Linked DNA regions of Homo sapiens. The protein of the gene in region 2 purifies or fractionates together with the protein of the main gene of each other region. This does not show direct contact. Each region holds a gene or a part of one and is shown on either strand. Other genes may lie near its edges.

The links. Proteins that work in one complex are often made in the same cells at the same time.
Region 1: the proteins of LAPTM5 (region 2) and STXBP4 purify together in Homo sapiens (affinity purification with mass spectrometry; one large-scale study listed by BioGRID and IntAct). This does not show direct contact.

Annotation. Positions count from the first base shown.
Region 1 is NC_000017.11:54,995,361-55,000,776, forward strand, and holds part of STXBP4 (syntaxin-binding protein 4), read left to right. Parts: intron 1-3,984; coding exon 3,985-4,091; intron 4,092-4,265; coding exon of another isoform or gene 4,266-4,271; coding exon 4,272-4,482; intron 4,483-4,855; coding exon of another isoform or gene 4,856-4,903; intron 4,904-5,416. UniProt on the Homo sapiens protein: Plays a role in the translocation of transport vesicles from the cytoplasm to the plasma membrane. Inhibits the translocation of SLC2A4 from intracellular vesicles to the plasma membrane by STX4A binding and preventing the interaction between STX4A and VAMP2.
Region 2 is NC_000001.11:30,746,737-30,752,152, reverse strand, and holds part of LAPTM5 (lysosomal-associated transmembrane protein 5), read left to right. Parts: exon of another isoform or gene 1-1,809; intron 1,810-2,220; exon of another isoform or gene 2,221-5,416. UniProt on the Homo sapiens protein: May have a special functional role during embryogenesis and in adult hematopoietic cells.

The sequences.
Region 1 (5,416 bases), on a different chromosome or scaffold from region 2:
TAACATAGGGAAAGCAGACAGAAATCAAAATCCTCTCTTCAAATCTGATAGTATATTTCATATTTTCTTCAGTTGGTTCTAAGATATACATTAAAACATATACATATAAGCTATGCATGCACACACACATATATATAACATGCATATATCGGTATGTAATATACTTATGAGTGTGTGTATGTACGTATTTTTTCCTCTTCTATCTCTGAAATTATAGGTCTCACAGTCAGTGTCATCATGTAATTTGTGGCATTGAAGTAGGACATATTTAACTTTCAGAGGAAATCTGTTTTCATGCGGAGCATAGCACTGGAACCAGGGCTAAGGCTTTTAGATAAATATCAGGATCAGGCCTCTGGATGGCAAACTATGAAGAAACCAGTCCCACTGGTGGGAGCTGAAGAAGTAGCAGCCAAGATGGTTCGCTTTGCAGTGTCACTCTCTTTATTCCTTTGCCATTATTATTTTTGTCATAGCTACCTTAATTTCCTCAGACTGTTTCTTGGCCCCCTTTAACCTATTGTGGACTTACTGTGTACCTAGCACTGTACCAGGGAAATAACCATGAAAAGGACAGAGTTCTAGTTATGCCTAATGAAAGAATTGGTGATTCTGGCCCACTAAAAGAATCATTGCCCCTAGACTGGGAGTTGCTGATTTAGTATATTCTAATGTGAGGGCAGGGAAAAGCAGATATGTAAACATAAGGACCATACAGAGTAAGTGCAATCCTTTAGGTAAGTAAAAGTGCTTTTTGAGCAAAAAGACACAACGATTAAGTAAATCCTGGGCAACTAGAGAAAACTTCCAGCAGAGATAGTGTTTGAATTGGGCTGTGAAGTTTAAGTCAGAGTTTATTGCAGAGAAGTGGCAGGGTGGATGGTGGCATTCTAGATGGGAATTCATATGTGTGAAAACATTGAGGTTCAAAAGACCATGGCTGGTTTGAGGCACATTCTCTGAGAGTAGAATGAAGAATATGCTGGTGTGGAAGGTGGATGATGAAGCTAGAAAAAGTAAGTTGCAGTAAATTTGTTGTGCTGGGTTTGGGATGTTGAGGAGTTTCAACTTTTCCTACCAGTTGGCAGCCATCAAAGGTTCTCAATCTAATGAGTAATATAATTAAATTTGCTATCAGTATGAAAATTGTCCACAACAGATATGGAAGTCTCATTCACTTCATCTTATTTAACACGTATAATGTGCTATAATTTACATATGTTACTTAATTCTTATAGCAACCTTGTGTTACATATATTTATCCCCATTCTACAGCTAAGAAAATAGAGGTTCATAAAAGCTGAACAACTTGCCTCAGTTCACAGTAATAACTGGAGTTAAAAGAAGGTCACCATCAGTCTACATCTTGTAAAAGTACAGGAAAGGAATCTTAAGGCTTACAGAAGGACTATTCCTTAGTATTAGGTATAATGAGTTAGTTAAGTCAGAATTAGGCTGTATAGATGGTTTCTCATAATATTGAAATGTATTATTTAGAAAACTATATACCAAAGTCAATATAGAAATGAATAGTACTGGTCGTTTTTAACAGAAGTGTTTATGTGGTCAGGAATATATTATTATTTCAACATCTACATGAATGTCAATGTGAAAGAATTCAGATCTGAAGTTCAGCATATGAAAGTGCTTGGCACATTGCCTCCCATGTCAGGTAGTTGCTCTGTAACTGCTGAATTGGAATCTAGACTGTGTGGAAGAGGTCTCAACATATCTCTGAAGTTAGTATCTTCACATATACATTAATCCATCTGGGGCAGAATGCACTCGAATGCCAGACTTACAAAAATAGCTTTGTTTTCATTTGCAGGTTCTGACTTTTAAACAGGTTCAGAAATTCACATGATCAGCTAAGATCTTATTCTAGGAGGCAAAGAAAAAAACTAACTGCTATGAATACTTTTTAGAAAGAAAAAATATGTAAACACCAGAAGTCATAGTCAGAAGGCATTCTTCTTCTTCTCTTTTCTGACTCCCTTCCTGCCAGAAAATGCAGCTTCTATACATCAGTGTACTTTAATACAAGATGGGCTAAATTGCCTTCATGTGAACTTTTTTTCTGTACTAACACTGCATGTTATGTTGTCTGACTTTGCTAACTATGTTTAATCACATATTTACATAAAATCAAAAATTTTTTTTAAATTATATATATAACATAAATATATATAATATAAATATATATATTATATAATATAAATATATATATATTTTATATATTTTATATATATATATATTTTTTTTGAGACAGATTTTTGCTTCATTGCCCAGGCTGGAGAGCAGTGGCGTAGTCATGACCTTGACCTCCTGGGCTCAAGTGATCCTCCCACTTTAGCCTCCTGAGTAACTGAGACTACAGACATGTGCCAGCTATTTTTTTTTTTTTTTTTTGAAAGATGGGGTCTAACTATGTTGCCCAGGCTGGTCTTGAACTCCTGGGCTCAAGCAATCTTTCTGCCTCAGCCTCTCAAAGTGTTGGGTGTACAGATGTGAGCCACCGTGCCTGGCTTATATATTTTTAAAAATTAAGTTGACTCTTTTGGCTTAAGTATTTTAAATAATGTTTACATTTCAGTAGGATAGGGTCATTATGCATCTAGATTATATAATCTTTTACACACTATTTGAGATATGTTTCTATAAAATCCTTTCATGAATGTTTTATGTCAATTTTGTTGTTTTCCTATATATTCTTTAGTCAGTGAAAGAGATAGTACTTCATGTCTTTTTAAAAAATAATAATACCTGTTGTTATTTAGGAGTAAAATAACTGTGAATCACCATTATTACAAATAATACAGCTTAGATCAAAGATCAGTATCCAAGGGATATATTTTAGTAGATAAGACTTTAAAGAAAGATGTTTTCTTGAATTTGTGGAAGTTACTTAAGTACCATCAAGGTGAAAATCTCCCTTTTTAACCATATAAGCTTTTTCTGTAGTTATAAAAATAATGGTTTCTACCACTGTACTAATTAATGATAAATAGGGAAATACCTTAGGAACTGTAAAAGAAGAAAGCTTATTTTTATTTTCTAGTTTGAATGAAAAGAAAAGACAAAAACTGGGAAACTTATCTAACATATCTAACAACCACATTAACTCTTGTTCCTGATATGCTCTGTCTTACTCAGTTAGGCTAGCTGTGAGCAAGCCAGGCCTTAGCAAAGGCAACACCAGGCAGCCAGTTAGAATTGTCATTATTAGCAGGATATGGCTAACAATATATGCACAGCCAACTAGGCCTTAATCATAGGGGGATAGCAGGTATAGTAAAAAAGATTATGCTGAAATATGGGTAGGATCAATATAATTAAAATCCTTGGCCAGGCGCAGTGGCTCACACCTGTAATCCGAGCACTTTGGGAGGCCAAGGTGGGAAGATTGCTTGAGCCCAGGAGTTTGAGACCAGCCTGGGCAATGTAATGAGACCTCATCTCTACAAAAAATTTTGAAAATTTAATTTTTTTTTTTTAAAAACCCTTGACTAAAGTTTTAAAAATCTCAATGTGGGATAAATCCACACACACATTGAACAGTTTGGTGGGAGGACATATGTAGGAATGCAGAGAAAATAAAATAAATGAGTTTTGTATTGTGAAATATCCCACAGTTATTTGGCCCACTTTATCACAGAGTCAGAGCTTTATCAGCCCCATAGTGCTCAGTTTTTAAAACAGGTCCCTTTTCCTGGTATACTGGCCTATGTCCTACCTACCATATTAAGAATTCTTTACCACGTAAATTTATTCATGCAATACATGAACCATTCCATTTTACTCATAATATATGTTACCAAACCAGACTTTAATCAAGAGATTTTGCTACTGAGGTTGTCTAAGATTTTACTTTTTACTCTTTTTGAAGGCATTCTTCACGAAAACTTTTCATTGCTTTAATTACATCAATTAATTTTTTTTTAAATACCTCATTAGTTCCTTTATAAATGTTACTGTTTTTGTTAGGATGGTCGTTTGAAGCCAGGAGATCAACTTGTCTCAGTCAACAAGGAATCTATGATTGGTGTATCATTTGAAGAAGCAAAAAGCATAATTACCGGAGCCAAGTTGAGGTAACTATACTATCCATGAGATAGAATGAGTCATTTAGAATGTCTCCTTGAAAGCAGTAATTTAAGATGTATTAAGTACTTTATAATAAGTATTTTTTAATAACATCTGAAACATTATCTTGGATTTCAGTTGTACTATATTCATAGCATATCCATAAAGTGATTTCTTTTTAGTACTAGGTTAGAATCTGCTTGGGAGATAGCATTCATAAGACAAAAATCCGACAACATTCAGCCAGAAAATCTGTCATGTACATCACTTATAGAAGCTTCAGGAGAATATGGACCTCAAGCCTCAACATTAAGTCTTTTTTCTTCTCCTCCTGAAATACTAATCCCAAAGACCTCATCCACTCCCAAAACAAATAATGACATTTTATCTTCTTGTGAGGTAAGTCAGGTAATCTTAAATTTCTCTATATATGCACTCCATAAATTCCCTATACATTTTTACATTGGTTATGTACATATAGAATTATTTCAGTAAAATTGTTAACAAATTAATATTTCTTTGAAAGATTTTTTTCTATTTAAAATTTTTATGCTGTGTTTTCAATAAACATATTTTAAGTCAGCATGTCCTGTGTCCAGGAGCATGATTGGTTAGAAAATACCAGCATGACAAAATGGTTCCACAAAGATATGCCTAGATATCACTCAAAACTATGTTAAGAATGTCATATTTGGTTTCAGTTGGTTTAGTTATTTGCCATTTCTGTTCTCTGCTTGACTGAAGTGAGGCCATCTTCCTTTTTGTTCCTTAGCTTCTTTCCCACACAGTGAGGCTAATCCCAGGCATCCAATCTAAGAAGGTATTGCTCCTTCATGTGTGCATGCTATAGTTCACCCAAGTAGAATCACACAAAATGGGGAATTTCTATATCAGAATTAACATACTCAATTACTAACTGCTATATTATCTGAACAAATTACAGTTACAGAATAAAGTGTGTATTATTTATATCTGTGTTAGCTGTAAAATAGGAAACTTAAGCTTTTAGTCAGTAGAATAAAATTCATCAAAGGTAACTTCAGTCTCTGGTACATGCTGAACAGAGACAGAGTATAAGATTTTCTGTCAGCCCCTTATACTTTGTCACTTGGAGCTATAATACTTTTAAAAGACAAGATGAGTGGCCTTATATTTTGTTATCCTTGGATGTGGTAGAGCTGAAAGCAATTGTTACCTTTAATTCTGAATTGCTTTGTTTGAAGATGCATATACCAAAATTTTAGAGGTTTCATATTTGAGGGATAATTACTTTAATCTCTTTAACCATTCTTTTTATGTTAACATGGGCTTCAAGTGACCTACTTTAGTAAAT
Region 2 (5,416 bases):
CCCCATGGCTGGGGTGGTGTGTCTGTCTGGGAGGCCCTGCCCTCATCCAGCCTCCCACCATTCATTTCTTCTTTATGGTCCAGTTTACGGGAAGCTTCCTCCTCCAGGAAGCTCTCCTGATTTGTCCTCCTTAGAACTCCTGGGGCTCTTTTCTCTGCTCCACTTTGGGGGCAGTGATTTGTGATTGAAAGGAACACAGGCCCATCTCCATTACTTACCAGCAGTGTGACTTGAGCAGGCGGGCACCTTTGTTATCTGAGCCTTGCCTTCCTCATCTGTAAATGGGGCCAGTGGTCCCTGCCTCAAAAGTGATCATTTGGAGGAGACCCTAGCGAAGCCGGGTGGAGGGCTAGCAGGTGAGTGCCTGAAGTGGGCTGTGGAAGAAGAACACAAGGCCCCCCGCCCCTTTTTTTTGAGACTGAGTCTTGCTCTATCACCCAGGCTGGAGTGCAGTGGCGTGATCCTGGCTCACTGCAACCTCTGCCTCCCGGGTTCAAGTGATTCTTGTGCCTCAGCCTCCCAAGTAGCTGGAATCACAGGTGTGTGCCATCATGCCCGGCTAAGTTTTGTATCGTTAGGAGAGATGGGGTTTCACCATGTTGGCCAGGCTGGTCTTGAACTCCTGACCTCAAGTGATCCACCAGCCTCAGCCTCCCAAAGTGCTGGGATTATAGGCGTGGGCCATAGTGCCTGGCCCCACTCCTCTGTTGAAAGTTCATCTGTTTGGGGTTGAAAAATGGGTCCAAACTGCCAGGTGGGGAAAACCCTGGGTGAGAATCTGTTAGAACTTGCCACCTTTATGTCCAGTGCCCCTGGGCTGGACAGAGAGGCCACGTTCTCTGCCACTGCAGCTCTGTGCGCTTCACGGAGGGGTGAGGAGGCCGGTGGGGGCAGGGTGGGAGTTGTAGCCCCTCCTCAGTGTCAGAACTGAGTTGTTCTCCTCACCTCAGGGGTGTGAACCCCAGCTTCTAAAAGCAGGAGGCCCCCATGGCCCATCCCACCCAGAGAGTGGCTGAAGGGCCTAGCCTGGCCTGGCCGAGACTTCTCTGTTGCCAACCTGGCCCCGAGGCCTCCAGGAAGTGAGGCTTTTATTTTGAGCCTAGAGCATCAGCCTGGAACCAGGACTTCGCTCTGAGCTCACTGTGAGGCGAGCGTTGGTTTCCCAGGGGACCCCACCCTGCCAAGGGAAGTGGCACAAAGCACCCCCTAATGAGGCAGGAAGCAAAGCCATGAGCTGCACTGCCTCAGCCCTGCACAGGGGCTGCTTGGGACAAGGCACCCGTCCCCCAGCCTCAATTTCCTCCCTGGTCAAGTGGGATTCAGTAACTACCATTTGTGGCACCGGAAAAATGGCAGCTGCCACGGGGGCCTCCATTTTACAGATGAGGAAACAGGCTCAGGAGGGCAAGTGACTCTGCAGCCTGTGTTAGATAAAGAACCCGAGCCCAGGTGTCTGCTCCAGGTGGAGGCAGGGAAGGCAGCCTTCCTGGCAGCCATGGGATGGGGGAGGGGGTCAGCTCTGCCATCCCCAGAGCCTTGTTCTGAGAAGCACAGAGCCCATGTGTAAAGAGCTGATTTCAATTTTACCTGCAAAATCAGAAAAATATGGGACTCATGTTAGAACCTGTCTCTCAAGACTGGCGCGAGGTTGACACGAGAGAGTGTATGGTCAGTCGGCCCTCCCTATCCGCAGGTTCCACATCGTGGATTGCAGATTGAAAATACTCAGATGCAGAGCCCGTGATACAGAGGGCCGACTGTATAAGTTCAGAAGAGGACCTGGCGTCTAATAAATGCACAACAATAATAGTATCAATACTTATTATCACTATTGTGGGTCTTTGCTCTGAAGATAAAGGGAGAAGTGATGGTTTTAGGGAATCGTTTGGGGAGTGGAGGGTGCTTCCCCAGATATCTAGGAAGTGGAGAATGACAGGGCCTTGTGTCATACCTGGAGGCCAACTCTGAGCCCCCCACTGGCTGCTCCTAAAGGGAGATTTGATAAGCTACCACCAGCCAGAATATCTCTGCTGCTGGGATTCACTGGTACTGTTTGCCTTTGGGGCAAAGTTAGCTGCTAGCGCCCAGTCACAGCACTTCCTGTGCTGCAGGTGACAACCTCCTCCAGCGCCATCTGAGCCGTCCGAGTCTAGGTTCTCTAGGTTTTGCATGAGCCGTCACATCTCCTGCATGCTCTTTCCCCTTTCTCTCTAACCCCAGAGGCCCCACCCCTGCCAAACCGGTGGATCCGTGTGTTCCCCCAGCCAACTGCTGCCATTTACTGAGGCCTGCTGCGTATTCAGCACATGGATGACGCCAAATCACAGTTTACTAAGAGGAACGTCTTGCCGTTTCCTGAATGCGTCTCATGCACACTGGCCTCTGCTCATGCCCTTTCCTCTGCCTGGAACACTTTTTCCATTGCTCTTTCGGGGAATCTTCTTCAAGATCCACCTCCTCTGAGAAGCCCGCCCTGACCCCTACGGTTGGACCCTGAGCTCTGGGTGTTGACCCAGAGCCCTGTGTGCTGGGTCCCTGGGAGTCGTGCCCTCTGGCCTGGATGCTCGTTTGGGTCTTGACCCAGCCTGATTCATCTTCATGATCCCGTGGAACCTGGCACAGGAGGTGCCAGCCAATCTCTATTTGATTTTTGCAAACCTTTTCTTGATGTATAATTTACCTATAGAAAAGCACAGCTATCTTAAGTGCACACCTTGGTGGGCTTCTACAAGGTGAACACACCCATGTGACCTCCACCCAAACTAAGAAATCAGACCAGCACCCAGAGGCCCCTAGAGCCCCCGCCTCGCCACTGCCCCGCCCCCACTGACTTCTGCCTGTCTATGTAGTTCTATAATACATACATCTGTAGAATTACGTAGAAATGAAATTCTGCAGCGCGTGTTCTTTTGTGAGCACTTCTTTCTCCCAACGTTATGTTTGGGAGCTTCGTCTGTGTGGTTGCGGGTAGCTAACTCATTTTTTCCATTGCTGTGTATACTCCATTGTATGAATCTACCACAATGCATTTGCCTGTTTTCCTGCAAAATAACATTTGGATTGATTCCAGCTTGGGGCTGTTACAAATAAGGCAGCCATGGCCACCAGGCTCCGTGCTGGGTGTCCACACACAGGCACCTGTGCTGCTCAGTTGATCTTTCTGAATCACTGTCTTCAATGATTTACTTCTCACACCCACTCCAGGAGGTGGATGGATTCTTCTCTCCCTTCTACAGATGAGGAAATGTTACAGATGAAGTAACATGGCCAGGCCAGGATCCCACAGGGGATCAGCGGCTGCACTGGGGTTCTCACTGAGGTCTGTGAGCCCCAGAGCCCAGTGGAGGGAGGAGGGGATGAGGTGGAGGCGGCGGGTGAGGACGAGAACTGCGGAAGAGTGAAGAGGAGAGAGAAGCCAGGCTCTGGGGAGCTGCAGGCAGCCAGGCCGGGCTGCTGCGGAGTGCGTGGCCCCAGGAATGGGGGCGTCTGGTGGTATCTGGGCTGGCTGGAGAGGTGGTTGGGGAGATAGTGCTCTTGGGGGGCTGGCCCCCACTGAGCCCTCATAAGCTCTGACCAGAAGCACAGGGTGGGGAAGGGGAGCTTCCTCTTGATGGTGACACATCTGACTCCCTTCTCACATCCTCCTCCCAGGCAACCCAGGGAAATCAGGGTGGGCAGGTGAGGTTGAGGGGACTGAGCTTCAGGGAGGGGCCATAATAATAATGATGATGGCAGAAGTGTGAGGCTGTAGGACACAGGGTCAGGGTGGAGCAGCCCTGAGGGGGAGGGGCAAGGGAGGGCTCTGGCACTTGGGACCCATATGGCAAACTGCATTGTCTGTTGGGAAGGGTTGAAGACAAGCCCGGGCCTGTCTTCTTGTGCAGCCTCTGTCCTGGGCTCGCACATTTGGTAGGAGGAGCCAATGAAGTAAACGGATAGGAAAGTGTCCACACTCTGGCTGGCACGGGTGTGTGCTCACTGACGGCTGGGTCCTTTCTCTATAACCTTTACCTCCCTGAAAATCTCAGATGGTGGGTCTCCGCCTGCCTGCTTCTGAGACGGTGGGTCCTGGGCCTCAGGGAGTGAGAGAGAGTGGGCCTGCTCTCCTGCAGAAGGGACTGGTCTTTGAACCCCAGAATCGGGGGTTCTTGTGTCATCACCACCATCCACATGATATTCCTTATCACCATCCTATCCTGATGTCCCCATTGCCGTCACCCCCATCACTGTCACCAACATCACCAACAGCATCTCTGATCATCACTGTCATCACCACGCCAACTCCAACAACATCCCAACAGCCACTCCCCGCCTCACATGGTCACCATGGCCAGTGCCTCCCAGGTGACACCTGGTGCACTGTTTTCACCGCATCCCCTCTGGTACCGCCATCCTTATTGCCCAGCCATGTTCAATACTGACCCCATTGTCCCCATCTTCCCTGATTTCCATCCTCCAGCCCCTGCCCCCATTCTTTTAGCTCAACCTGTTGCTTGCTCCTCAGAGCCACCAGGAAAAGAAACAAATCCCCCTGCCCCTGGCCACTTCCCCAACTGGCCAGCTTGGGGAAGCTGTGTTTGTCATTAAGAAAGAAAGGCTGCGTGCAGACGGGAATAAGAACTGAAACCAAAGATGGGCAGAAGAAGAGGTGAAAAGCGGGAAAGGAGAGTGGGGGTGGGAAGGGTGGCTGAGCATGGCTGGGACCGCAGCCTGAGCCTGGCTTGGAGGCAGGAGGACAGAGCTGATTTTGACCCTGCGACAGTTTTGGTGTGTGACCTTGGGCTGGTCGCTGTCTCTCTCTGGGCCATATTTCCCCGCTGGTAACATCCTCCTCTCAGGGAAGAGACACTCCCGTGCCTTCTGAGTTTCCCTGAAGGGACTGAAACACACCTGCACCACCAGGCCTGTGGCTTTTGCACATGATGTCTGCTCTTTTGGAATGCTTTCTTCTCTTCTGTGTTGGAAAACTCCTACTTGCCCCTCAAAGCCACGCTCATGGGTTTCCTGTTGGTGAAATTCTCCCTAAGTTTTTTAGACAGCAATGCGCTCTCCCTCATCAAGGACCCCAAGCCCCATGCGTGTCCTCTGTCATGGCTCTGAGCACACCATTCATGTATCGAGTTCCCTGGAGACTGTGACACCGGCACGCCAGGGTCAGTGGCTTTTCTAGACAGAGTTTGGAGGCGGTAGGTGCTCAGAGAGTGTTTACTGAGAGTCAGTGAATGCCCAGAGGTAGCAAAAACCACCACCCAATTGTGCTTGTTTATGGTGCACCTGCTGTGTGCCCGGCTCCGCGCACCACACGATTCCATTTGACCTCAGCAATCCTGTGAGGCAGGTCAGTGATTATCCCCATTCCTCAGATGAGGAGCCGAGGCCCAGAGAGGTTAGTGGCTGGCTCAAGGGTGCAGAGCTC